Regions from separate parts of the Homo sapiens genome. Here region 1 is linked to region 2. The links come from fine-mapping of genetic effects on gene expression. A gene starts in region 2. The other region holds a variant in brackets. All regions are shown on one strand. Distances are from middle to middle.

What was found.
Region 1: its variant is fine-mapped to the expression of FRMD4B in whole blood (TOPMed, PIP above 0.99).

The regions. Positions count from the first base shown.
Region 1 is chr3:69,354,294-69,357,208 of GRCh38, forward strand. The region is part of intron 1 of FRMD4B (FERM domain containing 4B); the gene reads right to left. Among named protein-coding and RNA genes, the nearest start is that of FRMD4B, 30 kb to the right of the region's middle. The variant C/A (reference allele first, on the strand shown) is at 1,128.
Region 2 is chr3:69,384,587-69,387,501 of GRCh38, forward strand. It overlaps FRMD4B (FERM domain containing 4B), which reads right to left and starts at 1,502. Exons shown (of 23, transcript NM_015123.3): 1 at 1,242-1,502. The coding sequence starts at 1,403. RefSeq lists an enhancer at 969-1,579.

The DNA.
Region 1 (2,915 bases), 30 kb before region 2:
AAGGCAGAGAGAAAAACATATAGAATACTGGAAAAATAATAAATTTACTTTTTTTAAAAAAAGAGAATGACTAAGTAAAAGTTTGTGACAGGGTATCATGCTTCTCCCTCCTGAAAAAAAGAACAGTCTGGAATTTTGCTCAGGAGTATGGTATGGTTAAGAATATAACCATAAGATTAAATCTCTAAGACTCTCTAGAGTCAGAGAAACCTCGTGTTTTACAGTTGTATATATCCTTGGGAAAGTTACTTGATCTTTCTGAGAATTGGTTCCCTCCTTTGTAAAATGGAGATAAAAATCCTGATCTCCTTCAGGAGTGCTGGGGAAATTAAAAGAGATAGTTCATGCAAAGCTCAAAGAATTTGCCTGGGAGATACCACAGGTATCTAAATATAGGGTGGGGTACCTCCCTTTACCCCCACAAAATGTTAATCCCTCAGAAACCGGGGAGTGGCTTTATCTTCAGATCCTTCTAAAGACTCTAATTACTATGACCACAATATACTGTCTGGGGAAGACATGGCAGCCTGTAACAACTTCAGTCAATGCTAAGTTTGGATGCAAATAGAAGTCACTTGATGATATCAGTAGAAAAGGTGGCAAAAAGTTTAATACATATTTAGTAATTATTTGTGAGCACGTGACCTCCCAATTGGACGGGTTGGATGTTAGAAGAAACAAGTTACTTAAACATTATTTCATGCACATATACTTGTAGGATAAATGGAAAAAGGAAAAAAAAAAAAGCTGGGCAATGATATTCCCAGAAAAGCATCATATATGGAGATTGAAAAAGTGCTATATAGCTCAAACAACTTGGGCAGAAGTGGAGATGCTGCGCTGTGATAAAAGGATGACTCAAAGAGGACTTTTGTTCCAGTGCCAGCACACACATGCACATGAAGAAGCTGAATAAAATTATCCTATCAAGAGGGAGAGCACAAGGCAGAAATCACTCCAGTTATTAATCTGCATAACAAGTGTTATGAGCACTCCTAATATTAGGAGTAAATTTTCTAATATTTCATATACATTTCTAAAATTTTATATAGGTTGACCCAAAACATTTGCCTGAGTCTTCTTGTTTGGAAGGTGGGGAATTATTGTATTACTTTATTTGACAGAAC[C/A]TTCTATTTGTTAATATATAACAGTAAAAACTCAATACATGGTACCTTTTCTTACTGGGTTGGAGAGTCGACTGAGAGAACTAGTGGGACATTTCTGATTGTATGGTAAAAATGTTTTCACTGTTGAAGGACAATCGGAATGTTGATAGCCAGTTTCAGCAGCAAGTTGGGCTAGATTAGGCAAGGCTAAAACCAGGAGGCCAGGGCAGCTTGAGGGCCAGATGAAGGTTGACAGACCAAATTAGGGGGGAGGCTGGGTAAGCTCAGGTTATGGTGTGAGAACACATAGAGATGGAGTCTACCAGGAGTATTAAAATTAGGAGGCCGGGCACAGTGTCTCACACCTGTAATCTCAGCACTTTGGGAGGCTGAGGTTGGCAGATCACCTGAGGTAAGGGGTTTGAGACCAGCCTGGCCAACATGGCGTAACCCCATCTCTACTACAAATACAAAAATTAGCCAGGTGTGGTGGCCGGCACCTGTATTCCCAGCTACTCGGGAGGCTGAAGCAGGAGAATTGCTTCAACCTGGGAGCCGGAGGTTGCAGTGAGCTGAGATCACACCACTGCACTCCAGCCTGGGTGACAGAGCAAGCAAGATTCCATCTCAAAAAAGAAAAAAAATTAGGAAACAGGATCCCCGCTTTTCTTTGGGGACACCATCCAAATAACTGGGGGTAGGGGGGAACCCCATATCCCCATATAAAGAAGATGAATATGTGATTCAAGACTGACCAATAAAATCACTCTACCCCCATGTGATGGTTAATACTTAGTGTCAACTTGATTGGATTGAAGGATGCCAAGTATTGATCCTGGGTGTGCCTCTGAGGGTATTGCCAAAGGAGATTAACATTTAAGTCAGTGGGCTGGGAAAGGCAGACCCACCCGTGATGTGGGTGGGCACCATCTGATCAGCTGCCGCTGTGGCCAGAATATAAAGCAGGCAGAAAAATGTGAAAAGACAAGACTGGCCTAGCCTCCCAGCCTACATCTTTCTCTCGTGCTGGATGCTTCCTGACCTGGAATATCAGACTCCAAGTTCTTCAGTTTGGGGACTCGGACTGGCTCTCCTTGCTCCTCAGCCTGCAGACGGCCTATTGTGGGACCTTGTTATCATGTGAGTTAATACTTAATAAACTCCCCTTTATATATAGATATATATATACACACACACATACATATATACACACACGTATATATACATATATATAATATATATACATATATATATAATATCCTATTAACTCTGTCCCTTTAGAGAACCCTTACTAATACACCCCATACCCATTAGTCATAGGGATCAGAGAAGAAGTATCTTTGTTTTTGTTTGTTCTGGAGTTACAAAGTTGCTTGGATGAAAATCTGGGGCTACCAGGAAACCTCATGCCAGACAGAAGAGTTGGAGAGAGACATACTCCAATGTCACTGTCTGAATTATGAAATGCCATTGAACCTGAAGTCATTCCCTGGCCTTTTCAGTTACTGAGTCTATAATTTCCGTTTCTGCTCAAGCTGGTTCTGATTTTTAAACAAAACTTTATTTGCAAACAAAAATATCCTATCTAATATGTCAGTTTGTGTGAGAAAGGATAATTGGAATCTGACACCATTAGTCCACTGACCAACACTGTTCAAGAATGTGGGTGCTTATAAACACAGGATTGGAGAGTTTGGTGGGGCTCTAGGTGCAAAGACGGGACAAGGGCATAGGTGCCAGGGATTCAGTCGTGAGGAAATGGATAATTCCTGCAGTAGTAGGGTATCAGATAGGAGTTTTGTAATCAGT
Region 2 (2,915 bases):
TCAAACTCCCACATGCTGCCCTGGTTCCCAACCTGCCTTTCAGATTCCATTTCAAAATGCAAGATATCACAGATATGTTATACAAAGCAGAAGCAGTGAAAGCACAAGTTCAAATGTTCCTCATATTTTAACAAGGGTGACAAGGGGACGCTGACTCTTTAGACTTCCACAGGCTAACCTTAGGTGCTGGCCTTTTCATTTTGCCTGATTGATGGAAGATTATGGTTTGTCAAAATCAAGTGCTTGATCATGTATGAGACACAATATAATAAGACATAAATTCTAGACATATTAGGAACAGGGTCAAATGGGGGGAAATCCAGGAACTGCAACAAAGCTATTCCACATCACAGGAAAGAAAATATGATATTATCTTTCCACAGTAGACACCAAGTATATTTCTAAACAATGCAGATTTTTAAAAATCTCAAATATATTAACAACCAAAGCACAGAACTTTTAAATTCATAAATTACTGTCTAAAAAAAAAAAAAGAAATCCAGGCAAACTGCAGTACCAGAGAGGATGAATGGTCTCCTAGTTGAGCAAAGTTGCTGCATTTTTTGCCTGCAGGATGGGACCGAGCAGAGAAATAAAGGGGCTGTGTTGTGTGACAGGGAGTAAATCCTAACATGAGCATTCCAACGTGTAGCCGGGCCACCCCTCCCTTCCCCAGCCTGTCATCCTCCTGCAAAGTGTTCACAATTTGCTGTCCTTCCTTCCAAAAGCCAGTAGACACAGAATCAGCTTTTCCTGGCTCTGCCTTACAAGTTGGGGCTGCCTGATGGAAAACTGAAAATCCAACGGAAGGATAAAAATCCACCAAGGCCCCCTCTGCCAGCAAATTGGTGTGAAACCGTTGCTTCAGAAGCAGCCACTCCCACCCCCAATGAAATTAAAAAGAAGGACTCATTTGAATGTCTAAGTGGCTTTCTGAAGACCCTCTGTTGCAAAGCAACAGCCTCCCTAGTCAAGCGCCCGCCAGTACACCATTGCTCTGTAACAGATGTCTGCAAACGCTGGGACTATCTCGCAAGTGCCCCCCATGCCCGATTTGAAAAATTCACAAGCTCTGTCAAGCAATAATTACCTAGAGCTGCTGAGCGTTTGACCCAAGGGCCAAGCAGTCTGCTAGGAGTTTAAGAAGAGCTGGGGGGAATAAAATCATACAGGTGGAGCCTGCTTCCCACGAGTGCCCGGCATCCTGCTGGGGCCCTCGGGTGCCGCGCGCTCCAGCTCACCTGGTACACGTCCTGCAGCCCGCACCACGTCCGCAGCACCTGGTGGCAAGCCCGCAGCCTCTCCGTGTACCATCTCCGCAGCGTGGACACGGTCAAGTTCCATACGAAGCGGCTGCCGCTGAACAGCAGGTCCTCCACGCCACACATGAACACCGAAGCCATGCCTCCTCCTTCGCTCTGAACCCGGGCGTCCCGGCTCTCGTACGTGCAGCCCCGACCCCAGCGGCCTGCCCGCCTGGGCTCCCGACGCCGGCTTCTGCTGGCAGCCGGGGGGTCAAGCCTGCCACCAAACTCGTCTTTCACCGTGCGTCCTGGCCAGGCTCCGGCGGCATGCCCTGGGATTGGGTGCCCGCCAGCCAACGGCTGCGACTGGCACACAGAAGCCCAGTGTCCACCCCCGCCCGCTCGCAGCGCCGAGCAAGCTGTGCTAAGCTCCACCAAGCTGGCCCTCGATGCTCCCGGGGCACGGGAAGCCCTGGCCGGCGAGGACTCCCCCTGGCGCTTCCCCAGGGCGCGGGGCAGGGACGGAAGCGGAGCAACTCTTTGCAGGCAGAGAGGGGAGCTGCATTTCAGCACACTTGGCTTCCACGTCTTGCGCGCGCGCGAACACACACACACACAGACACACACCCCCCACACCGGACGAGTGGTCTCCTAATCTGCCTCGGGGAACACCTTACTCATCTTGCTCTGTTCACACTGATAAAACACCTCTGGGCAGCCACAGATGCAGAAGAGAGAGAGAGAAAAAAAAAAATCTCCAAGGCATCCCTTTGGACCCTACTCCTGGGGGAATAGCCACGAATGTTTCCTTGGTTCTGCTGGAAGCAGGAGATGAAGGCAACAGTCTCAAAGCAACAGGCGGCCCTAGAACCTGCCTTTGCTCCTAACTTGAGGGTCTCAGAGAAAATGACAGCCTCCTGTGGTTGCCAGCAGGAAGGCAGGTTTCCTCACACCAAGATGCTGCTAATACCAATGCAGCAGTCAGGGAGAAAAACAGAGTTCTTGGTCCCTTGTAAATAGCTTGCCGTTACTAGTGCTGGGAAACAGAAGCCCATAAGAGAATCGGTGGTTTAGTTCTGGAAAATTCAGCCTCTGGACATGTCTAACCTCACCTGCAAGCACCAACCTGCATGGGTAGTTTATTCTCCCCTCAAAACCAAAGGAAACTGTTCCACCACTCATGAAGTCACTAGATAATTAATCTTATTTATTTATTTATTAAAGTTTTCCCTCGGGAATTGATGCTGATTGTTGGAAACATTTGGAAAAGGGAGCTCAAGGAGTCTCGCCTACCACCAGTCTCTGTCTTCCTTTATTTATTTTTGAGACAAGGTCTGTTGCCCAGGCTGGAGAGCAGTGACTCAATCATAGCTCACAGCTGCCTTGAACTCCTGGGATGAAGTGATCCATCTTCCCACCTCAGCCACGGGGACTACAGGTGCTAAGTTTATTATCATTATTTTTTTTGTAGAGATGGGGTCTCACTATGTCGCCCAGGCTGGTTTCAAATGCCTGGGCTCAAGCAATCTTCCAGCCTCAGCCTCCCAAAGTGCTAGCGTTACAGACATGACCCATTGTGCCCAGCCTCCATTTTCCCTTAGAATGTATGAAGATTTCTCATAGCAAAAGTGCTGTAGCAAATTTCAGGATGGAGTTTTTTCCTGAATCCAT